Linked DNA regions of Homo sapiens: all the other regions are reported to be linked to region 3. The links are microRNA targets in miRTarBase. Many come from high-throughput screens and were not tested one by one. Region 3 holds a microRNA gene; each other region holds the end of a gene's coding sequence.

The links. Region 3 holds the annotated microRNA hsa-miR-6796-3p (GAAGCUCUCCCCUCCCCGCAG, at 3,021-3,041, shown strand). A microRNA usually pairs through its seed, bases 2 to 8, with sites in the 3' UTR of a target mRNA and lowers its output. Matches are read on the target gene's strand: a 7mer-m8 pairs with bases 2 to 8, a 7mer-A1 pairs with bases 2 to 7 and ends in A, and an 8mer does both.
Region 1: miRTarBase lists ZNF75D as a target of hsa-miR-6796-3p. Seed matches in the 3' UTR shown: 7mer-m8 at 1,689-1,695.
Region 2: miRTarBase lists SAMD9L as a target of hsa-miR-6796-3p. Seed matches in the 3' UTR shown: 7mer-m8 at 1,307-1,313 and 7mer-m8 at 2,194-2,200.
Region 4: the mRNA of SLC7A14 is a reported target of hsa-miR-6796-3p. Seed matches in the 3' UTR shown: 7mer-m8 at 2,508-2,514 and 7mer-m8 at 1,374-1,380.

What each region holds. Positions count from the first base shown.
Region 1 is chrX:135,282,604-135,288,809 of GRCh38, reverse strand. ZNF75D (zinc finger protein 75D) reads left to right here. Exons shown (of 7, transcript NM_007131.5): 7 at 964-3,019. The coding sequence ends at 1,673. Among named protein-coding and RNA genes, the nearest start is that of ETDC, 24 kb to the left of the region's middle.
Region 2 is chr7:93,126,142-93,132,347 of GRCh38, reverse strand. It overlaps SAMD9L (sterile alpha motif domain containing 9 like), which reads left to right. Exons shown (of 5, transcript NM_152703.5): 5 at 1-2,292. The coding sequence ends at 1,131. Among named protein-coding and RNA genes, the nearest start is that of SAMD9, 11 kb to the right of the region's middle.
Region 3 is chr19:40,366,867-40,373,072 of GRCh38, forward strand. It overlaps MIR6796 (microRNA 6796), which reads left to right and starts at 2,980; the gene lies at 2,980-3,041. PLD3 (phospholipase D family member 3) reads left to right here. Exons shown (of 13, transcript NM_012268.4): 5 at 1-49; 6 at 830-1,013; 7 at 3,042-3,162; 8 at 3,244-3,371; 9 at 4,807-5,007. RefSeq lists a silencer at 1,080-1,245 and an enhancer at 4,916-5,210.
Region 4 is chr3:170,462,305-170,468,510 of GRCh38, forward strand. It overlaps SLC7A14 (solute carrier family 7 member 14), which reads right to left. Exons shown (of 8, transcript NM_020949.3): 8 at 1-5,073. The coding sequence ends at 4,751. It overlaps SLC7A14-AS1 (SLC7A14 antisense RNA 1), which reads left to right and starts at 4,981. Exons shown (of 6, transcript NR_135556.1): 1 at 4,981-5,092.

The DNA of each region.
Region 1 (6,206 bases), not on the chromosome of region 3:
TCATTCTTATATTTGATACATTTTTGTGTGTAGAGTACAGGGTGTGCAAATTAAGCAATTTCAGTAAATATTAGAAATGTCAATTATTTTGCAAATATAAAGTGAGTGAAATCAGCTAATAATGCAATACAATAAGACTTGTGTTAAACAGAGCTTTTTCCCCATGAATACTTTTTACTCTTTCCTTTGAACATCTCGATACTTAAATACATTTCCTTTTATTGGCTTGCAGAAATTAAGCAAAAAGTGAACTATTACCTAGCTACAAGATACTAAATAGTATAAGAGTTTGGAGCTGTCCAGTTGTAATAAATAGAAAATAACAAATATAGTGAAATATGCTGCAAGTTAATGCTCAAAAATGCAGCCTTCTGAGTTACAAAGTACACAATCCTACTAGTCTTCTGAAGTTGTCATTAGTTCATGGAAAATGTAAAAAAGAGCAGAAACTCCATTTAGCTTTTACCTTTCCAGCAGCTCCAGTGCTAAAGTTATAGAATCATGTATGTTTGCCCAAGACCAACTGCACATTGGCGCTAGTCACATATTCTATTTTATCCAGAGTTCAATCAACAAGTCTTTATTTGCACTTCTTTTTACATTCAGGAAACAATAAGCCTACCCAGGCAGCCTTCTGTTGATAGTTGCCTTCTTCTGTTGGGTGTGGGGATATAAGCCACCCTGCTATGTTATTTTTTTTTTCTGGGGTCCTAAACCAGTTTGTCTTTTTCTTACCATTTTTAGAATTTTCTTTTTGTTATCTCATATCACTTAATGGGTTTGTTTTTGTGCCTATCAGGGAGGATCAAGGAGAAATGGGTCTATGCCATTTTGTCCAGACTGGACCAGAAATCACTTGTTCCTGTATTTCTTTTAAAGCAATCATCATTGACTTTTCTCTCCATTTATGTAGCTTTCTTTCACTGGGACACAGATGGCTGATTATTCTGTTTATTCTAACAGGGTTAAAGCTAAAAAATGACACTGGAAATGATCATCCTATATCTGTTTCTACATCAGAAATACAAACATCAGGATGCGAAGTATCAAAAAAGACCAGAATGAAAATTGCCCAGAAAACAATGGGCAGGGAAAATCCTGGTGATACACACAGTGTACAGAAATGGCATCGAGCTTTTCCAAGGAAGAAAAGAAAGAAACCTGCAACTTGTAAACAAGAGCTTCCAAAACTTATGGATCTTCATGGGAAAGGCCCCACAGGGGAGAAACCTTTTAAGTGTCAGGAATGTGGGAAAAGCTTCAGAGTTAGCTCTGATCTTATTAAACACCACAGAATTCACACTGGAGAGAAACCCTATAAATGTCAACAATGTGACAGGAGGTTTAGATGGAGTTCAGATCTTAATAAGCACTTCATGACCCATCAAGGAATAAAACCATATAGATGCTCATGGTGTGGGAAAAGCTTTAGTCATAACACAAATCTACACACACACCAAAGAATTCACACAGGAGAGAAGCCCTTTAAATGTGATGAATGTGGAAAAAGATTCATTCAGAACTCCCACCTTATTAAACACCAGAGAACTCACACAGGTGAGCAGCCTTATACGTGTAGCTTATGCAAGAGAAACTTTAGTAGGCGATCGAGCCTTCTTAGACACCAGAAACTCCACAGAAGAAGGGAAGCATGTCTAGTGTCTCCAAACTGAGGAAAGTTACCATGTAGAGCTTGACTTTAGAAGTGGTGAAAGAATACAAAATTATGAGGCACCCAATGATAGGAATCTGTGATTAATAAAACATTTGGGAAGGGTACATGTTACACTTCACAAAAAGGAATCTAAGCTGTCTGTTTTATTCAGCATTGCATCTTCTGTGCCTAGCACAAGAGTTGATACATAAGGAGTACTTTATAAATAAAAAAATGAAAGTGTAGTGATGAGATTCCTTTAGCTATCTATCTATATGTATATATCTGGTTATTCAAAGCTTCCCCACCCCCAGTCATCTAAATTTTTCAGGTATCAAGTGCTCAACAGACATATGATAGTCAAGGCTCTTAGTCTCATTTTTTACTCTTTGTCAAGAGAAATGGAAAATAAGAGTACTTGGGCCCTCTTAAGGGAGCTCAGAGAGAATTACTAAATTAGGGACAGTTTCAATAGTTATCATTCTGTCTACATGAACAATCAAGACCAGGACTCAGGGAACTTTACTCTGTAACAGAAAGAGAGGATTCAGTGTTTGCCCTGGGAGAATTGTCCCATTCTTGTTGCTTCTCTCCTGAGTACCCACTACCACAATGTCTTCTGTCAAGGAATTACAAGTAGCAAGGGAAGGTCTGAATGTAAGGACAGGCCTAGGGACCTTGCAAGCACTTGATATCTCTCCTCTTGCTGACTTTGTCAACATAGACATATAGTGAAATGATGAGGGAGGCAGTCTTGGCCCTCATCCAGGTATCTGGTTTTTTTTTGTAGAAAGCACAGATAAGTGGTAAATGGTCTTTTTCTGACTTTCATTATGTGGACTGGATGGAGGCTTTCAAACTGGTGCCATACTGCTGCAGGACCTAAAGGGAGCCCCATCTTTATGGCTGATCAACTACAACCCTATATGCCTGAATACTCTGCAAGAAGGCCTGGAGATTTTGCAAAACTGATTTATTGAGAATGGCAAGGAGAGCCTTGTGAACTTTTAGCTTTGGTGCACAGCTGATACCAGGAGGGAACATCCTGAAGTGTCAGAGAAAAGTAAGGCATATGGCTCACAGTGATGATGCCAGTCAGAGCCAGGCCAGATGGAAATTGTTTTCTGATGTTACTGGTTTTCTTTTCCCTATTAGCCAAAGTGACTATCTCTTAAGAGAAGATAATGTGACGTCAAGGGAAGTTGGAAGGCATGGATTTATATCTATGTCAGATCCTGGTTTATAATGTTGGCCAAGGCTTATTTATATATGTTTATTTAGTATTCCATAAAATTGTACTTCGTAATGAAAATGACACATTTTATCTTAAATTTAGACAATAAACAAAACTTTGTTACCAAATCACTCAGAAATGGCCAATGTTTGCTTTTTTGAAATGGATGTCTTCAGATATTTTTTCCACCAAGAGACCGTTCTAAGCCTGTTTCCAAATTTATAAAATGAGGATTATAATTCCTACTTCTTAGGGCTACTGTGAGGATTAAATGCACACATGTGAGCATGTCTGACACAATGATTGGCCACATTTGGTGTTTCCTAAACATTTGGAACTTTCTTCATTCTTCCTTCACCTAGTTATTTAGAAAAGAAAATAAGCTTTGTCTACTTGCCCAGCTTTTAAGCATTCTTCATTAATGAGTTTTCCATCATTTCTAGCTGGTTTTTAGGCCCACTAATGATGGTCAGAATGGTAGCCTTCTGGCATGACATTCATTTGGTTCTAGAGGTGCTCCTCTCTAGTCAGCCTGAAACAATACACTGATGTCCCAATTCAGCTAGCTATACTGCTCATGAGTAACAAAACCAAAATATACTACAAACCCTCAACTTGAGATTCCTGAAAATGGAGGGGAGGTGATGGCTAGGGGTGGAATTTTTGTGGACAGTATTTATGCTACTAGGTGCATCCTCAAGCCAATAAAGTAGAAATGAAAGAGGAAAGAGGTGACTGCACATAATGGCGACTAAAAAGAATGAAAGTGCTAAGCCAAAAGGAGGAAGTGACCTGGGAGGAAAGGATCTCATATTCCCAAAGGCTTGGAGACTATGACTGCCTCACCACCCCTCCTCCTAGAATGATCTGAGATTGTGCCCTTGAAACTAAAATGGGAAATTCAAATTCCTGCAGGGGACTCCATTCTCTTTGTGTGAATCCATGTTTGCTAGCATCCTGGATAGCTGCTATCATACCACCATTCAAATAAATTTATTCATGTAGCTTTTATAAAGAAGGGAGGTTAACTAAAAAATTCAAGGATGTACTAGGTCAATGGACCCAGCAGTTATACTCATGAGAATCAGCAAAGTCCCCCAGAACAAGTCAGCAAAAGAGCACTCCACTTTCCTAAAGCTGCTTACCCCTGTTATAATACCTGTTACCTTCAAAGCTTATCGTGCAGGTCCTCATCTACACTGGCATCATTATCAGCAGGGTTTGAGAGCAGGGAACATGGGTTCTATTTGAGAGATCAATTATTTAAGGCAAGTGGCAGGAAGTGACTGCCTTTAGATGGGTCTGAGCAGAAACAGAGAACTGGGATTTGTTATTCCAAGTTCAGATACTCCACCATCATTTGAATACAAGGGCCCCAGGAAAAAGCACATTCTCATCCCTGAGGTTGTGGAACAGGATCTAGAAATCAGTGCTCCTGGCTGACTCATTAGTGCCCAGTCTGCCCTTCAGCCCTCTGACACAGTCTCCTAGGGCCACATTCCCCGTGCATCCTGACTACTCATGTCATCCCTTGCCAACTCAGAAAAAGAGGAGAAATGTATGTCCATGGAGATATGGGAAGTAAGGAAATAAATGGCAGAATGAGATAAAGGGAAGAGATGTCATTCTATTGCATAACTGCCCACCACCTTCTCAGTACATGGCTAATAGACATGAGCTCCATTGCCTTTCTGAGGACACAAGAGAAAGGCAGCATACAAAAGCTCAGGAACTGGAGAAATGGACAGATTATTCATTCATGGGACAGAGTGAAGAGGCAGAATGCTCCAATTCTTGATCCCACAGACAGAGATGGAACTGAAGAACTGAACCAAGTGTGAGGGGGTATGAACTCGTTTTCCAGTCTCTGTGCTCCCAGAGAAGATGAGCTGAGCAGAGAAAGATAAGAAAGGGTCTAGGAGAGCAGAGTTTAGCAGGCTTTTTCCACTTGTGTGCATTTGTGAGGACTGAGATTGGAAGTCAGGGACTCAGGGAGCCGAATGCCATTGCTTGCTGTGGATGAGACACAAGAGCATGTGAGTGGGTCAAGCCTACCCTGTGCCAGACTCAGGTCTCCACCTTTTCCCTCCCAGCAAACAATGACATGGTTTCTACCCATGGGCCTTTTTGGGTTCCTTCTAGCTCCTTCTCCACTCCCAAGAAACCTCTTCCTCCTTTATTGCCTTGTTCTGTCTGCCACAGGCCAATCCTGCTCCTGCCACTTTGCCACTTCCATTCTTTCAGGGAAGGAGAGGAGGAGGGGCCCAAAGACAGGGTGTAGTGAGTGTTATTGTGTTCCACTATTCCCAGAGGAATGGGCACAATAACTGAGAGTGGAAAGGCAGAGTTGGGGAGAGAAGAATAAACAAAACGGAATCATGGCCTAGTCTTCTGTCAAGTAATTTAAAGGCTCTCCTTGCTACTTCCCCTTTAATCCTTGAAAAACACTAAATGGCAGGTAGGTGGGCATGGTGATGACCATGTTGGGGAGGAAGCTGTTCCTCATTTAAAGGAGGGGGCTACCTACAAACTTCTGTTCTTAGCTCAACAGCAAAGCCCTCCCATTCTCATTCTTGTTTTCTTTGCCTTCCTCTTCTCCCTCCATGCTCCCTGATCCTTCCTACCATTGTGGGTTCATGCATGAGACACTGGTAGAGAAGAAGGGACAGGAAGCCAGGGAAACTCTCAAGGACCATCAATCATGAGATATAAAGGGAGAGGTCAGGAGCCATGTTTGAGAGCAGTAGAGGGATAATATCACTCTTAGATCTGGACAACCCAGGGAAAGAAGAGAGGGAAGGAGGCCAGGTCAGCTTTGAGAAGCAGTTCTGCTCCAGGGCTGGGAGTTAGGGAGGAAGTAGGGAGGAGGACCTATGCAATGCCAAGAAAGATTTCCCTTGTCCCTCTTTAGGCTCTGTGTATCTCAGTGTGAGACTTGGGATGATTAGTTGACCATAAATGTATGATTTTGGTGGCTGGTAAGATGGCCAAATAGGAACAGCTCTGGTCTGCAGCTTCCAGTGAGATCAATGCAGAAGGTGGGTGATTTCTGCATTTCCAACTGAGGTACCCAGCTCATCTCATTGGGACTGGTTAGACAGTGGGTGCAGCTCATGGAGGGTGAGCAGAAGCAAGGTGGGGTTCACCTTACCCGGGAAGTACAAGGGGTTGGGAGAACTCCCTCCCCTAGCCACGGGAAGCCCTGAGGGACTGTGCCCTGAGGGATGGTGCATTCCAGCCCAGATACTACACTTTTCCCATGGTATTCACAACCCACAGACCAGGGGATTCCCTCAGGTGCCTATGCCACCAGGGCCC
Region 2 (6,206 bases), not on the chromosome of region 3:
CAGATTCTTCAGCTCACTCCCTTTTTCCACAAAGAAAATGAATTATCCAAAAAACATATGGTGCAATTTTTATCAGGAAAGTGGACCATTCCTCCTGATCCCAGAAATGAATGTTATTTGGCTCTTAGCAAGTTCACATCCCACCTAAAAAATTTACAATCAGATCTGAAAAGGTGCTTTGACTTTTTTATTGATTATATGGTTCTTCTGAAAATGAGGTATACCCAAAAAGAAATTGCAGAAATCATGTTAAGCAAGAAAGTCAGTCGTTGTTTCAGGAAATACACAGAACTTTTCTGTCATTTGGATCCATGTCTATTACAAAGTAAAGAGAGTCAATTACTCCAGGAGGAGAATTGCAGGAAAAAGCTAGAAGCTCTGAGAGCAGATAGGTTTGCTGGACTCTTGGAATATCTTAATCCAAACTACAAAGATGCTACCACCATGGAAAGTATAGTGAATGAATATGCCTTCCTACTGCAGCAAAACTCAAAAAAGCCCATGACAAATGAGAAACAAAATTCCATTTTGGCCAACATTATTCTGAGTTGTCTAAAGCCCAACTCCAAGTTAATTCAACCACTTACCACGCTAAAAAAACAACTCCGAGAGGTCTTGCAATTTGTAGGACTAAGTCATCAATATCCAGGTCCTTATTTCTTGGCCTGCCTCCTGTTCTGGCCAGAAAATCAAGAGCTAGATCAAGATTCCAAACTAATAGAAAAGTATGTTTCATCCTTAAATAGATCCTTCAGGGGACAGTACAAGCGCATGTGCAGGTCCAAGCAGGCAAGCACACTTTTCTATCTGGGCAAAAGGAAGGGTCTAAACAGTATTGTTCACAAGGCCAAAATAGAGCAGTACTTTGATAAAGCACAAAATACAAATTCCCTCTGGCACAGTGGGGATGTGTGGAAAAAAAATGAAGTCAAAGACCTCCTGCGTCGTCTAACTGGTCAGGCTGAAGGCAAGCTAATCTCTGTAGAATATGGAACAGAGGAAAAAATAAAAATACCAGTAATATCTGTTTATTCAGGTCCACTCAGAAGTGGTAGGAACATAGAAAGAGTGTCTTTCTACCTAGGATTTTCCATTGAAGGCCCTCTGGCATATGATATAGAAGTAATTTAAGACAATACATCACCTGTAGTTCAAATACGTTTATTTATATCTTTATGATTTTATTCTCTCTCTCTATTCTCATGGCACTTTCATAACATTATGGCTAACCTCTAATTACAGATTTTGCTTTTGCCTCCCTGAATGAATTACAAGCCTTTTTAAGATATGAAATATGCCTACCCGCAGAGCTTGGCACAAAGTGGAGTCAATCTTTTAATGTTTTAAATATGCATTTTCAGACTCAAATAATTAAGAAGTTTCATTGATATCCACTGGTCACATCATAACTGTCTATAGGGCAATAAAATCTGTGTTAAACTCAATTGCTTTTATAAGTTTTCTAAATTATTTCTTCACTGTGACAGCAAAGATTTAAATAAGATGAATGTAAAAGAGAAAGCTTATTGGACTCAAACCCACAGATCCACACCAGAGTTCTATTTACCTCATCTTGGTATCAATAAAAACTTATGTGGAAGGTAAATATATTGTTCCCCATCCACCACATAACACTCTCCCCAACACACACACACACACACACACACACACACACACACACACACACTCCTTGTACCCCTTGCCCTTCTCCCAGCTCATTGCTCCAGGAGAGAGAAGAGTTCAAAAAATAAAGTAATCATAAACTTGAACTCTCTCCATTCTCTTGTTCCCATTTACAGGTGAATCTCTTCCTTTAAGCCATTTTTGTCTCCTGTGAATACAGCCTTATCTCCACCTGTTTCTTAGATCCCATCTCCCCTGGCTTATTTTTTCCATTCATTACCCTCTTTGTTCCCTTTACTTCTCAACCTGTGCTATATACATGCTGTTCTCTCTGTTGAGATTGCCTTATTTCCATCTAACATTCTCTCTCCTGCTATTCTGATTTGTCATTCACAACTGATTTCAAGAGTCACCTTCACCAGGAAGTCTTCCTTGACCACCATCATTCCTGCCTGATTAGAGGGCTTCCTCATGGTAATATGTGTTCTCAAGTTTTCAGTGTCAAGGAATGCCATCCCAGAAGCTCATTCTCAGATGCACAACAGCCAGAACAGTCTCAAGCAGCATTCTAGAGCTTGGAATTTAAGAACTACGCATTGCCTATAAAGTGAAACATAGGCTAATATAGATTAAATTGAATATTGAATAAAAAATATATTTATTTATCCACATCTTTGTATCTCTTTGTAATGTAACTTAGATATTCTGGACTCCAAACCCAATTCTTCTTGTCATCAAGAAGTCTATGCTCTATCAGGGTTCTTCTGGCCTATATTTCTATGAATCTGGGCAACGCTCACATGGTCCAGAACATGTCCCTCTTTCTGAAAGCTGTGTCTGCTGCTGACCCTGCTCCAAACAGTTGCCTCCCTCTTCTGCAGTCCACCAGTCCATACAGTAACAGGATCTCCCAAGTGGCTATACTCCCCAAGTTGTTCATAGGCCTGGGGACATAGGCCTGATCCTATTTCTTTTAAACTCCCCTGCTGGACTATAACATTTAGTAAGACATAACTAAAGGCTTGATGTAGAGAAAAAAGTTATAATGAAAGGAGGAAAAACTACTAAATATTCCTGCTAACCATAATTATCTTTAGAGTTAATAATTCTGACCCCACCACCAGGTATCTTAGAGAGCTTCCTTCTCCTTAGCCCCCATTTCAACAGCCATGCTATAGAGTGATCTTTTCTCATTCTTCTGAATGCAACAACACCTAAACGTGAATGCTTGACTTAGAGAGTAGGATGCAAACCCTTTGATGCCCCCAGAAATAATTACATTCTTCCTGAAAAGAAATATAGTGTAATATGCAAAATGTCACCCCACCCTTAATGAGGAGAAGGTCTTACATTACTCTGCAGAGAAGTTTATGAACCTCAAAAATCTGAGACAGGTCTCAGTTAATTTAGAAAGTTTATTTTGCCAAGGTTGAGGATGTACATCTGTGACACAGCCTCAGAAGGTCCTGATAACATGTTCCCAAGGTGCACAGCTTGGTTTTATATATTTTAGGGAGACATGAGACATCAATCAATATATGTAAGATGTACATTGGTTCCGTCCAGAAAGGAGGGACAACTCAAGAAGGGAGGGAGCTTCCAGGCCACAGGTAGGTGAGAGAAAAACAGTTGCATTCTTTTCAGTTTCTGATTAACCTTTCCAAAGAAGGCAATCAGATATGCATTTTCCTCAGTGAGCAGAGGGATGACTTTGAATAGAATGGGAAGCAGGTTTGCCCTAAGCAGTTCCCAGCTTGACTTTTCCCTTTAGGTTAGTGATTTTGGGGGGCCCAAGATTTTCAAGATTTACTTTCCTTTCACATTTCCCCCCTTATCTTTTTTAAAATCTTCGGAGAAAGCATTTTAGAAGAAAATGAGTCTCTGGTCTCAGGTTTCATCTGGCCTCTCATGGCTAAAATGGTTCATTCCTAGACAGTTAGGTCCCAAGTTATTAGGAAAGCTTATTTTTAGCAAGTTGAGAAGTCTCATGTCCTATGCAGAGAAAACAGGGGGAGAGAGAAAAACTACAAGATATAAAAGAACAATCCTGGTAAATCGATATAGGTCACATTACTCTGAAGCCCGTATATCAGTAGGCAGGTTTGAAAGTGGCTTATGTATGTAAATAGGCTGCTGTTATTTCCTTTTGAAGTTTAAGTTATCTAGCATCAGGTCACAGGGCTTTACAAAAGCACAACTTAGTTTTCAGTGACTCCAAATGAGGAAAAATGGGGGGAAAAAGAAGGGAAAAAAATGAAAACATTATTTTGAAAACTTGTACCCAAGAAACATTAGAATTCAGCCCAAACTGTAGAAAATAATAAAAATTGAAAAATATTAGGCAAGACTAGAATCCAACAACAGATGTACCATAGTTTTTGAAACATAATTTTTCTCTCTCCAGTTTCCCATTTTTACTAAAGACACATCATGGTAGGACCGATTTGCTTTGTTGCACTTAGCCAGATTATTTGTATAAAGTGCAGCAAGAATAATTATTTTTCACATAGGCTTTTTAAATTGGCTTTGATGGAACTTTGTTCCATAGAAGGCATCTCAGATCAGCCTTTATTTTTTGTTTTTGGGTTTTTTTTTTTTTGCGATGGAGTCTCGCTCTGTCACCCAGGCTGGAGTGCAATGGTGCAATCTCAGCTCACTGCAACCTCTGCCAACTGGGTTCAAGTGATTCTCCTGCCTCAAACTGCCCAGCCATGTTTTATACCATCAAATACCTATGAGTTGGGTGAATTCTTCTCCCCTTGAGGTCCCAAGATAACTTGGGGCCCTGGGCCTGTCATAAAGTGTCATTCTTTATTTACCACAGGTCAGGAACCCTGTGCAGGGACTGTGTAGACAAGGTATAAGGCCAGTTTTCCCAAAAATCTTTTATTGGCTCTTTAGGGCAAGTTTGATTCTTTAAAGGAAAGCATGTCATTCCAGTCACAGCCTTGGTAAAATAACCAGTTTCTCCAATTGTGTCCTGTTACAAATGAAAACAAATTCTTATTGCACTTACATAAATAACTATACTGCCATAAATTAAGAATACTCAGAAATAGTTTCCAAATTCTGGAGAAATAAGGTAGAGAGAAACAAATATGCTCCAAATTTTGTTCATAGGAGTATACTTATTTGTAAAAAGCTGTCAATAGCTCAAAATAAAAGTTTCCTTGACTCTGAAAAACAAGACAAAGGATCAGCAACATTTTTTCAAATTTTTTCTTTTTTTCTTTATAATACTTTAAGTTCTGGATACATGTGCAGAATATGCAGGTTTGTTGCGCAGGTATACACATGCCATGATGGTTTGCTGCACTCATCAACCCATCATCTACATTAGGTTTTTTTCCTAATGCTATCCCTCCCCTAGCCTTCCACCCATCAACAGGCCCCAAGTGGTGTTCCCTTCCCTGTGTCCATATGTTCTCATTGTTCAATTCCCACTTACTAGTGAGAACATGCGGTATTTGGTTTTCTGTTCCTTTGTTAGTTTGCTGAGAATGATGGTTTCCAGCTTCATCCATGTCCCTGCAAAGGACATGAACTCATCCTTTTTTATGGCTGCATAGTATTCCATGGTGTGTATGTGCCACATTTTTTTAATCCAGTCTATCATTGCTGGGCATTTGGGTTGATTCCAAGTCTTTGCTATTGTGAACAGTGCTGCAATAAACATATGTGTGCATGTGTCTTTATAGTAGAATGATTTATAATTCTTTGGGTATATACCCAGGGTATATTGCAGGGTCAAATGGTATTTCTGCTTCTAGATCCTTGAGGAATCACCACACTGTCTTCCACAATAGTTGACTAATTTACACTCCACCAACAGTGTAAAAGTGTTCCTATTTCTCCACATCCTCTCCAGCATCTGTTGTTTCCTTTCTTTTTAATGATCACCATTCTAACTGTTGTGAGATGGTATCTCATTGTGGTTTGGATTTGCATTTCTCTAATGACCAGCAATTATGAGCTTTTTTTCATATGTTTGTTGGACACATAAATGTCTTCTTTTGAGAAATGTCTGTTCATATACTTCACCCACTTTTTGATTGGGTTGTTTGTTTTTTTCTTGTAAATTTGTTTAAGTTCCTTGTAGATTGTAGATATTAGCCCTTTGTCAGATGGATAGATTGCAAAACTTTTCTCCCATTCTGTATGTTGCCTGTTCGCTCCGATGACAGTTTATTTTGCTGTGCAAAGCTCTTTACTTTAATTAGATCCCATTTGTCAATTTTGGTTTTGTTGCCATTGCTTTTGGTGTTTTAGAAATGAAATCTTTGCCCATGCCTATGCCCTGAATGCTATTGCCTAGTTTTCTTCTAGGGTTTTTATGATTTTAGGTCTTATGTTTAAGTCTTTAATCCATCTTCAGTTAATTTTTGTACAAGGCATAAGGAAGGGGTCCAGTTTCAGTTTTCTGCATATGGCTAGCAAGTTTTCCCAACACCATTTATTACATAGGGAAACCTTTCCTCATTGCTTGTTTTTGTTTTTGTCAGGTTTGTCAAAGGTCAGATGGTTGTAGATGTGTGGCATTATTTCTGAGGCCTCTGTTCTGTTCCATTGTATGGAATGGAACA
Region 3 (6,206 bases):
ATCTCTTTGGGCCCAACCAGCGCCCAGCCCCCTGCTATGACCCTTGCGAGTAAGTGGGGGGTGCTGCAGTTGGTGGGGGAGGGGCCTGCCAGACCAGGTACACTTAAGCACACACTAAACAGGGCCTGCACTCAGCCCTACCCAGCGCTTGCGACAAGTGAGGAGGTTGCAGGCTCCCAAGTGCTCGCCCGCCCCCTCCTCCTCCACACACATAGTTTCTATGGCAGCCACAGCGTCATCTTCTGTCAGGCCTGTGAACAGACACAGCATCTTCCACCCACATCTGTGGACCCACACACACATCTCAATACACGACCTTCCTTCCACACCTCTAGACAGACACGCAGAGGATCATGAGTCCAGGCACGCATTCAAATACACACAGTTTTAAAAAATTTTTTTTAAAAGAAAAGAAAAACTCAAATACAGTTTAGCTGGGCTTGGTGGCTCACGCCTGTAATTGCAACACTTTGCGGGGCTGAGGCGGGAGGATTGCTTGAGCCCAGGAGTTCCAGACCAGCCTGGGCAATGTAGTGCGGCTCCATCTCTACTAAAAGTAAAAAAAGTAACCAGGCATACTGGTGCACACCTGTAGTCCCAGCTACTCAAGAGGTTGAGGCGGGAGGATCGCTTGAGCCCAGGGGTTCGAGGCTGCAGTGAGCTGAGATGGCGCCACTGCGCTTCCAGCCTGGGGGACAGGGCAAGACTCTGTCTCTAAAAAAAAAAAAATACAGTCTATCCAACACACCCATGGACGGACAGCTGAGCACTCACCTCCCAGCCCTTGCTCTCCGGCACCGTATGGCTGATAGCATCCCCCACCCCCCAGAGCAGTGCTGGTGGAAAGCATTCCTGAGGGCCTGGACTTCCCCAATGCCTCCACGGGGAACCCTTCCACCAGCCAGGCCTGGCTGGGCCTGCTCGCCGGTGCGCACAGCAGCCTGGACATCGCCTCCTTCTACTGGACCCTCACCAACAATGACACCCACACGCAGGAGCCCTCTGCCCAGCAGGTACCTGCAACCTTGGCCCTGGCCGGCAGCAGGGGCAGGGGGTGGGAGGCAGCGGGGGCTGTGGGGAATGAAGGGGTTTCTCCTGCAGCCCAGGAGACAGAGGGGTGTGTCTCACACAGCAGATTGGACACAGGTGTTTGCAAGCAGCTGTCGTCACGTGGCTCTCTGGACTGGGGGCGTTTGTCACGGTCATCTGTAGGCCTCTGAATGTCAGGGTGCGGGTTTGGTTACAAGGGATTATTAGGCTGGCAGATGTCACTCACCCACAAGCTGTCCTGACCCAGTCACACAAAGAAAGGGAAGAGTGGAGTAATTAACAGCCCAGCCTCAAGACAGGGGCCACCTCCCAGCTGTGTGACCCCAGGCAGGCCACCTCTTCTCTCCAGCTTCAGTTTCTTTATCTGTAAAATGGGGCCAATTTATAGCACCTGCTTCTTAGGGCTCTTGTGAGGATGAAATGGACTAATCCATGCAAATTTTAGCACAGTGCCTGGCACAGAGTCAGCCTTTGTGAGTCTGCTGTTACTATATATCCTGGTATGGTCTGCAGACAAACTTAAAGAACATAAAAGCTTCACAATTTGAAAAGGAACAGCCTACATGGATAACCTCTTCCATTGAAAAACCATGAATTTGTTCCTTCTGTTTTCTTCTCCCTACTGGCTCTTTTTGTGAGAAGTTGTCTTAAAACTTAACTAAAATTACAAGGCTCCTTAAGAACTGCCTGAAAAAAATAATTATGGCCAAGTGTGGTGATTCACACCTGTAATCCCAGCACTTTGGGAGGCCTAGACAGGAGGATCACTGGAGCCCAAGAGTTCGAGACTAGCCTGAGCAACATAGTGAGACCCGCCCCCCACCTCCCCTCAACCATCTCTACTAAAAATAAAAAAAAATTAGGAGGGTGTTGTGGTGCATGCCTGCAGTCTCAGATACTCAGGAGATGGAAGGAGGAGGATGGCTTGAGCCCAGGAGTTGGAGGCTGCAGCGAGCCGTGATCATGCCACTACACTCCAGCCCAGGCAACATAGCAAGACCCTGTCTCAAAAAAAAGAAAAAGAAAAAGTAATAATAATAATTACAAAAGTTAAAAACCAAAGCCAGGCATAGTGGTACACACCTGTGGTCCCAGCTACTTGGGAGGCTGAAGCAGGAGAATGACTTGAGCCTAGGAATTGGAGGCTGCAGTGAGCTGTGATCATGCCACTGCACTCTAGCCTGGGCAACATAGTGAAACCCTGTCTCTAAAAAAAAATTTTTTTATGTTAAAAAACCGTATGAGCTCCCACTCCCTGCTGGCTCCCTCTAAAGTGGTTTAAAACACAGATGTAGGAGGCAGATGGTCTGGGTTCAAATCCTGCTCCATAGCTGGATGTGGTGGTGCACTCCTGAGGTACTAGCTACTTGGGAGACTGAGGCAGGCGGAATGCTTGAGCCCAGGGATTGAAGATCAGCCTGGGCAACATAGCAAGTCCCTGTCTCAACAAACAAACAAACAAAAAAACAAAAACAAAATCCCACTCCACTACTGAGTTCTCTGTGGGGATTATAATTAAACCAGCCTCACTGGGTTGTGAGAATTCAGTGAGTTCGCTGAGAAGAGGCCTAGAACAGGGCCTGGCACACAGTAGGTTCCAGGGCATCCTTGACTGTTGCTGTTGTTGGCATCATCGTGCCTCACCCGATACCTTCCAGGACCCCCTGCCTGAGCCTCGCCCCCACCATACTGGGAGATGCCTGGAGGCCCTGCCTTGATGCTGAATTTTGAGAAAGTCCCTGGAGGGGCAGGAGGGGTCAGGAGGACTTGGAGGGGGATCACAGGGCAACTAATTATTAAAGCAGATAAAGATGTTTAAAACAGATAAGGAAGTCTTTTAATATTTTAATCTGTAAAGTCTTTAATCTATGCAGGCTAATGTAAAGTCTGTTTACTCCTAATCATGTCTCAAAATAACTCCACCGGGCATTACCTTGTGGGGTTGGAGAGCTGGCTGGTCCAGCCCCTCAGAAGCTCTCCCCTCCCCGCAGGGTGAGGAGGTCCTCCGGCAGCTGCAGACCCTGGCACCAAAGGGCGTGAACGTCCGCATCGCTGTGAGCAAGCCCAGCGGGCCCCAGCCACAGGCGGACCTGCAGGCTCTGCTGCAGAGCGGTGAGCTGGGGCCCAACTGGGGCTGGTCTGGGCCTGGGGGTACCCAGCCTGGCCCCTGATCTCTGCCCCTGCTGGTCACAGGTGCCCAGGTCCGCATGGTGGACATGCAGAAGCTGACCCATGGCGTCCTGCATACCAAGTTCTGGGTGGTGGACCAGACCCACTTCTACCTGGGCAGTGCCAACATGGACTGGCGTTCACTGACCCAGGTCTGTCTGCACCCTGTCTACCTTCCTTCCAGGCCACTCCCTGCCCCACAGGGCACCCAGCCTCCGACTGCATCCCTCACTCAATCCAGAGTCCTCTCCACCCATTCTCTGTAATGGCTTCCTTCTTGCCTCCTACCAGGCCTCCCTAATCCAAGCCATGCACGGTGGCTCACACCTATAATCTCAACACTTTGGGAGGCCAAGGTGGGAGGATTGCTTGAGCCCAGGAGTTGGAGACCAGCCTGGGCAACATAGTGAGACCCCATCTCTACCAAAAAAAAAAAAATAAGCCCGGTGTGGTGGCACACACCTCTGGTCCCAGCTCCTTGGGAGACTGAGGTGGGAGGATCACTTGAGCCCAGGAGTTTGAGGCTACAGTGGGTTGTATTCATGCCACTGCACTCCAGCCTGAGTGACAGAGTGAGACCCTGTTACAAAACAAAGAATCCCTAAATGGAGCCCTCTACTGCCCTCCCCCTGCTCCTGGAAGCCTGGGGCTCCCTCTGATCCCCAATTGCAGCTACCAGCCCCTCTACATGGCATTCAAGAACCTGCGCACCCATTTGATCTTCATTGTACATCTCTGTGTGCCTGCTCTAAGTCCAGCCCTATCCTGGGTAATGTTGGGAACATGGTGGTAACAGATGGACCTCATGGAACTCCCAGCCCAATGCAGACTGGCCTGTCACCTGACAGTGACAGCCCAGAGGGGTCAGGGCCGGGGTTGGGGAGACACAGGCAGAGGGTCAGGGCCAGGATGGAGGGAACAGAGGGCTGTGGAAGCTCAGAGACCCCAACCTGGGGCATTGGAGGGTTTCCCAAAGGAGGTATAACTAATCTGATCCCTGAAGGATAGGGAGGAATTAGCGCAAGATGGAACAGGAAACAGCTTGGGCAATGAGGTGAAGATAAGACAGGACAATAACTCATGAATTCATTTCCTCAACAGATAGTTCCCCTAACCTTTAATCTCAGCAATTATGCAGGGAGATGCTGTAGATATAGCTGTGACTGAGACATCCCTAGTGCCTGTCCTCCCAGCCCAATGGGAAGACCAGTTTGTCACCAGAAAGAATGAGGAGGGAATCCCAAGGGACTGTGAGAGCCCAGAGGAATGCCTGGTGCAGGCTGGGTAGTCATGGGAGGCTTCCTGAAGGAGGCAACATGTCAGCCTAGACCTAAGAATGAGTAGAAGCTAGCTCAGTGGAGGGTAGAAGCAACAGCAGATTGCAAACGTTCAGGAAACCTGGAGCTTTGGAATAACTGATTTTCATCAAAACTTAAGTTGATAATCATTCTAGGACTTTAGCTATTGGAGCTGGGGTGGAGGGGGTACTGTGGGACAGGGGGAAAGACAGAGACCAGACTGGGGAGTGTCCCTGTCATCTGTGAGCACTAGGCCGCTATCGCTGAGCTCAGCACTGCCCTCCTACAGGTCAAGGAGCTGGGCGTGGTCATGTACAACTGCAGCTGCCTGGCTCGAGACCTGACCAAGATCTTTGAGGCCTACTGGTTCCTGGGCCAGGCAGGCAGCTCCATCCCATCAACTTGGCCCCGGTTCTATGACACCCGCTACAACCAAGAGACACCAATGGAGATCTGCCTCAATGGAACCCCTGCTCTGGCCTACCTGGCGGTGAGTCTGGGGCAAGTGGGGCCTGTCATGTCCCAGCCCCATGCCGTCACTCACAGCCTCCATCTGTCCCTGTTTGGTGATGACAGGGAGGGCGTATCCTGACCATCAGTTCTCACCCCAGCTCATTCTGCTTGGTCAGGGGCCTGGAGTAGTTCCCAACATCCCTCGGCCTCTATTTCAGTTAGAAAATGGGTATTGTTTCCAACCTGTTAGGGCTGCTGGGAGAGGTACCCTGGGTTCATGCACACCAAACCTTTGGTGCTCTATATCATCCAGTATAGCCACAGGTGGCTCTTTCAGTTTAAGTTAATTAAATGCAATTAACAATTCAGGCCAAGTGGGGTGGCTTATGCCTGTAATCCCAATACTTTGGGAGGTTGAGGTGACAGGATCACTTGAGGCCAGGAGTTTGAGACCAGCCTGGACAACATAGCAAGACTCCATCTTTACAAACAAACAAACAAACAAACAAAACTAGCTGGGTTGGGTTGTGCATGCATGTAGTCACAGCTACGCAGGAGGCTGAGGCAGGGGGATCACTTGAGCCCAGGAAATCTAGGCTGCAGTGAGCCATGATCACACCACTGTACTCCAGCCTGGGTGACAGCCTGTTTCAAAAAAAAATTGTTTCAAGCCAGGCATGGTTTCTCATCCCTGTAATCCCAGCACTTTGGGAGGCCAAGGCCAAGATGGGAGGATCACTTGAGGCCAGGAGTTCATGACCAGCCTGGGCAACATAGGGAGACATCATTTCTTTCTATTTTTTTTTTTTTTTTGGTCTTATTATTTATTGTTCTAGATAGGATACCCAAGAACTAGGGAGACACCATTTCTACAAAAACATAATATTAATTAAAATTAGCCGGGTGTGGTTGTGTGCACCTGTAGTCCCTGGGGAGGCTAAGACAGGGGGATCACTTGAGCCCAGGAGTTTGAGGCTGCGTGAGCTGATTGTACCACTGCACTCCAGCCTGGGCAAGAGGCTGTTGCCCTGTCTCCAAAAAAAGAAAAAATTCAGTTCCTCATGCAGTAGCCACATTTCATATGCTCAGTAGCACCTGTAGCAAGTGACCACCATATTGGACATTTCCATCACTGTGACAGGCTCTGTTGGACAACACTGGCTCTCGCCATGGCAGATACTGATCACTCTGGACAAGGCACTGATGTTTCTAGCTCTTGATAGTTTCACTAGTTGA
Region 4 (6,206 bases), not on the chromosome of region 3:
AACAAATGTTGGATGTCTAACAAATGTTGGATTTGTCTTCCAATAAAAGAAAGGATGTCAGGTTTACCAACCCTTTTCAGCAGAATAGAGGAGAGAGATTTCTTTGAAGGAGTTTGTGTTTTGTTTTTCAATAATTACTAGATTTATATTCTGGCTGACCTATAGATTCTGAAGAAGGATGGATTGTTAAATTCAACAACTCCCTTCCGCCCGCCATTTATTTAAACAGATTTATCATGACCATTATGTAGGCATTTGATTAGCTACTAGTTTGTTACTAAGAAGTAGAACTGGCACACGCCTATAATCCCAGCTGCTTGGGAGGCTGAGGCAGGAGAATAGCTTGAACCCGGGAGGTGAAGGTTGCAGTGAGCCAAGATCATGCCACTGCACTCCAGCCTGGGTGACAGAATGAGACTCTGTCTAAAAAAAAAAAAGTAGCACTCAAGCTCAGTAAAACCTGGAGCTGAGATTTTACTGTTTAGATTAGATAGATATAAAAAGTTGTTAGGTTTAGTTGTTGAAACCTATTGTTGAAAACTTTAAAGTGGCTGTTAAATTGTGTTGCTTGTCCACGTATTAAATGGCTGTATTTTCTTAGGTTAATGATGAATGCAGACACAGGACTCAAAGTACAGCTATTTTTCTCTTTAATTTGTTAAATCAATTTGGAGTGTATATGTGGCTTGTTAGTTCCTTGCATAGGTAAGGAAGCCACCGTCTCAGCTTTCTTAAAGTTCAGCCTTCCTGGATTCACACTTTCGTCAGTTCCCCAATTATTTCCCACTCTCTCACCCGAGGAAAGCCAGTCAGCTCAGTGTGACATTCAAGTCTCTCTGTGAGTGATCCCTCACCTGCCTTCCTAGCATTATTTCTTATTGTTGCATGTATAAGTCATGCATAAATCATGTGCTCCAGGCAAACTAGCTCCTTGCTTTCTCTTAATGGAGGCACAGCACAAATTCTTAGCCAGAGGACCACAAACTAGTAGACCTTATTCATGCCGATCCTTTGCTTGGCATGCCTTTCTCTCATTTCTACTTGATAAAATTCTACCCACTTCACAAGTTCCAACACAAGTGTGACATTCTTTATGACCTTTCCAGAGGAAGAAGGCCTTCTTCATATTTGACCCCCCACAGCACATTACAAGTCCGTCATCTCACCTGACACATTCACTATTGTTCTTTATTTATATATCCCATTTCCCCTATTTGATTTTCCTTTTTAAGAGACAGGGTATTCTTCTGTTACCCAGGCTGGAGTACAGTGGTGTGATCATAGCTCACTGCAGCCTTGAACTCCTGGGCTCAAGTGATCCTCCTCCCTCAGTCTCTCAACTATCTGGGATCATAGGCACATGCCACCACACCAAGCTCTATTTCCTCTACTTCTTAAGAGCTGGATTTTTATCTGACTTACGATATCAATATCTGCCATAGTACATAATAGGCACTCCACAAGTAATTGTTGAATAAATATTTCATTTTCCTCCAATTCATTCATTCTGTCAATCATCAGGTATTTCTTGAATACACACTATATGCCAGGCACATGTAGCTAGCAAAATCTAGGTTTGAAGCTTACCTGTGGATTTTAATGATCTATGCTATTTCAAACCTCTACCTGCATGGGGAAAGATTTGTTCTTATCATGCAGAAGTACTTCTTCTTGTCATTACCACTAATTCTATTATTTTTCATGGTGTCACTCATTGGCAAATTTAGTAAAGCATGTCAGGGTTCTGCATTTATGTACTAAATATACGTCTAGTTTTGTCTTATCCTTTCTGTTTCTATTTTTGTTTGCTCTGAGTTCCTCACTTAATTTTTGTTTTGTATTATATATATTTTAGTAGCTGCCTCAAATCCTTTTGAAATGAAGCAGAGTACCAATAAATAAGTAGAATAAAATCTGAAGAAAATCAAGTAATTGGCTCCAAACCACAAATCCACACAATGAAATCTCACTCGGAGAGCTTTTGCTATTCAGAATTCAATAAAATGTAGGTCTTCCTTGGACTCCCTTCAAGGGGCAAAGTTTCTAAGATAATTATAAGGTGATCTTACTTTTAATGTGATCCCACACATACATCGTTTAGAAACCTGTTAAGAAAATAGTAATATTGTCATTGTAGTGATTGATGGTATTTGAAAACTGCATTGTAAAATCTGGGACTGTTCACAGAAGCAGGTAAACCTGAGGACAAACATGTCTATGTACCTGAAAATACTTTTTCTATCTTAGTGATTTTTTTTTTAAAACTAAGGTTGCTAGGGAGGTGATTTATCAACTTTAGAAAAATAAAGGGAGCTAAGCTTAAAATATACTAATATACTATGTGGGAAAAATGGCTCCTGAAATGAGAGTGCTTAATAGAATCTGCATGAAGTCAACAGCAATGGTGTTAACCAAAGCATACATTTTCCATTCCCATCCTATAGAAATTGCATTCATCTGCCACCAGGCTATTGTTACTTTAATACTTAAACCTCACTAGTAAAAGGAAGCTCTTTCACCCACGTTAAGATTTTGCCATTTTGCACTCCTATTTCTCTATTCTCATGCTTAATGAATACAACCCCTCCTCATCTATCTAGATATGTATCAAGCTTAACAGATTCTATTTACACCAGGCAGATTTGTTGAGTCCTATAGCCAATTCAAAACTTTGTTTTCAAAAGATGACTGATAATTAGTTTATAATTAATTCCTAATGCTGTATTTCACAGAGTAGGCACTGTATCTTTATGGTTAACTCTAGGGAAGAGAAAACATAGCATTGTCAAGCATGATATTAAAATGACAAAATGACCTCAGGAAACCAGAGTTCTAAACAATGACTACAGAAGAATAAAAAATATCTAGAAAATTGCAGTTATTTTAGTTTAATGGTATACATTGGCTATGATTACGATATGTAATTTATTTAAAGCATATTTTTTAAAAACTAGTTTCAATTCATCTTTATATGTATGTTAAAACCCAGTGCATCAGCCTGGAGACTTGTCAAGTTTGTTGTTTTATCTGCATTTACCAGGCTCCAGTGCTGCTCATCCATGGACTGTAGCCCCCAAGGGCAAGTGCCATGCTTCTATTCATTCCTGTCACTTAGCATTGGGTCTATTCTCAACCAGTGTTAGTTGAATGAAAAAATGGACTTTTACCTCCTTGCCATAATCCTAAAGCATGCCAAGATGGCATGAGCCTCAGCCTTTCAGAAAGAACAGACTTGAGTGCTAGCGAATATGTTCTGGAAAACGTTTGGCATACTGATACATCCAGGAGAGAAAGGACAAGGAATTTCTTCTTTTGTCCCTCTTTCAGGAAATCCTCACAGAGATTTTATTAATAGCTTGATTAATTTTAATAGCTTGGTTAATTCTATGATAGCTTGATTCAAATTGTGCCTTCACATACATTTGTACGTATCTCAGTGCAGCCACAGGAATTCTTGTAACCCAAGAGTAGAATTTATATTGTAGCCCATGTGTGTTTTTTTCCTTTGCAAATTCTCTCATCTATTCTATTTCTGAGAAAATTCTTTTAATAGCCCCTTTTATGGCCCAAATTTACATCTTACCAGGTAGATATTTCTCTGGGCTTCAGTGAAACTACTCTGGGAAATAACAGGAAAAAAAAATACACCTCTGAAAGTGAGCTAGCCCCAAGGAATAAGGTTCAGAAGTGAAATGTGATCTCATGGAATGCAACTACCTAAGTCGCTATACTTCAGCCTATTTTGTTTTCAGAGTAGCACACACCAATCAAGTGGTTGCCTATCTCAAAAACTTTAGAATTTATAATTTTAGAAATATGAAAGAGAATTTGCAATGTGATCTCAGTGGCTGGCTCACTTCTCCTTGTAAAAATTTTTATCTGATTATAAAACAAACAACCTACTTTTTCAAGGCATATCAGTGCCATGAAATCATGCTCCACCTTTGCCCGCTTTCATCATATCACCAGGAGCTGCAGTCTGATATAAGAGAGGCCATGACAGAGAGTTAATTTCTGCCAATGCCCTTCTGGCTTTTACCGCAAGATATGGTTATTTAATTTTCTTCTGGGCATTTACATAGAGCTTTGATGGTGCTTCTTACCATATCACTGGGTCTGCCTGACTGCTTTATGGTGAATCTGAAACCATTGGGAAAATGGTCCAGAGTCCCTGAACTTTGCTGGATCCTAAAATTATAGTTTGGAAGCTGTGAGAATGTTGGTGAATAAAAAGAAGCATGTGTCTTTTCCATGAATTAATTTTGGGTGAGATTGCAGGATAAAATGATGCTTGCTCAGGAAGTGCCAATGCCCATCTACCCACCCTGACCTCGGGGAGCAGCACTCAGCCTGACATGCCAAGAACAGAGCTTTGTCCCCATGTCTCAGGTGACTGAAATTCTGCCTTCTGCCCAGAGCCCCTGCTTGGGCTTCAACCAGCAAAGCAAAGGCCTAGGAAACATTTGGTACCATCAGCTCTGGTGGTTGCACCTAAGATGGAATTTCATATAGCCTCTTGTTTATTTATTTATTTTATTTAACAAGGCGACCAGTTAGGGGACCCAGGTTAAGCCCTTCAACAGAACTATCCTGAAGAGCAAAAGTAGCAAATGACAGGCTATGACTAGGGATTGAATTTGGGGAAGGCTGGATTTGTGAAATGAGAGCCAAAAAAGTTTTCACCTTCTAGCCCACAGGTTAAGTTACTGAAAATCAGTCATCACCATTTCTACCCACTTGTGTGTTTCTCCTACTCTGGAGAGTAATCTAACTCATCATTTGCAATCAGGGCCTCTGAGTTCTGTTTGTGTTTGCTTTTGCTCTTCGCTTTGCTACTTGTCCGGCCGTTTGCCTTCGCATCTGACATCTGTTGGTAATAGAAGCCTTTGTCTTCAGTGGGCCCGCCCCAGTCCTCCTGGCTCTCGCCCTCTGTGGCGTAGGAGAAACCCTCCTCCACTGAGAAGGGGTCATCCACGTCGTAGCGTTGGTACGTGCTTTGGTGCAGGGCCTCTTCTCGAGCGCTGATTTCCAGGGTGCTGTTCCAGATGCCATATCCAAAATAAATGAGCAGACCTGTGGGGCGAGGGGAAAGGTACAGGTGAATAAGCAATTGCTTTGGGATCCTGGGACTAGCAGAGAGATCACCTTCAGTGATGAAATCAAAGCTGGCGGGGTGGGGGGCGGTGGGGGCGGGGATGTATTTTCTTTGCTTTATGTGGTGTTTTGAAAATACTTGAATTAGATGCCTTTTAAAAATTGGGAGATCTTGCGTTAAGTAACCCATATTTACAGATTTTCCTAGAAAAGTCAAAAGGTCTGACAACACTGCATCCACATTTCTACATGGTGATTTTTGGCTGGTGTTGAGAACTGGCTGCCTCTTTAGACAGGATACAGGGTCTCTAGGTTACCTCAGTCCCCACCTCCCATGCTGACGTCGGGCTCATTACACTCATATAGCTGCCAGCCAGGAATTTGCATTTTCTACCCTGGGTGAACTATTTATGGATCAGCAACAGTTTATTCCCAACGTTCTTATAAGATTTGATTATTCTCTGCCTCCAGTTAGGGACTCTATCTCATGTTTCACCTCTTAGCAGCATGCATATATTATCCTGTGATTTACCTTGACATTTTACACTCACTAAAGGCGTGATATATCATGGCCACTCCAAGCTGCCTGCTTTCTTCTGTGTGCTCTCAGAGTGTCTAGTGCATGCTACTATTATGTCCCTTAGAACATCTGTTGTGTGATTATCTGCACAGGGTCGTAGACTCTGCAGAAAATTGGCACTTAATGTTTGTTGAATGAATGGGTGAGAACTCCTGATAAGCGTGAAATGTCCAGTGCAACCTCTGTGTTGATGTCATCCCAATCAAAGGAAAGAAACTTGCCCCCCTCGTTAATATGTAGCATTCATATATGCTAATGTTTCATTTCTATGATTTAAAAAACATGCATAAAAGTCATTTATGAGTACCCATTTTCTTTTTCTTTTCTTTTTTTTTTTGAGACAGGGTCTCACTCTGTTGTCCAGGCTGGAGTGCAGTGGCATGATCTCGGCTCACTGCAGTCTCTGCCTCATGGGCTCAAGCGATTCTCCTGCCTTGGCCTCTCGAGTAGTTGGGACCACAGGCATGTGCCACCACGCCCAGCTAATTTTTGTATTTTTGAGAGATGGAGTTTCACCATGTTGCCCAGGCTG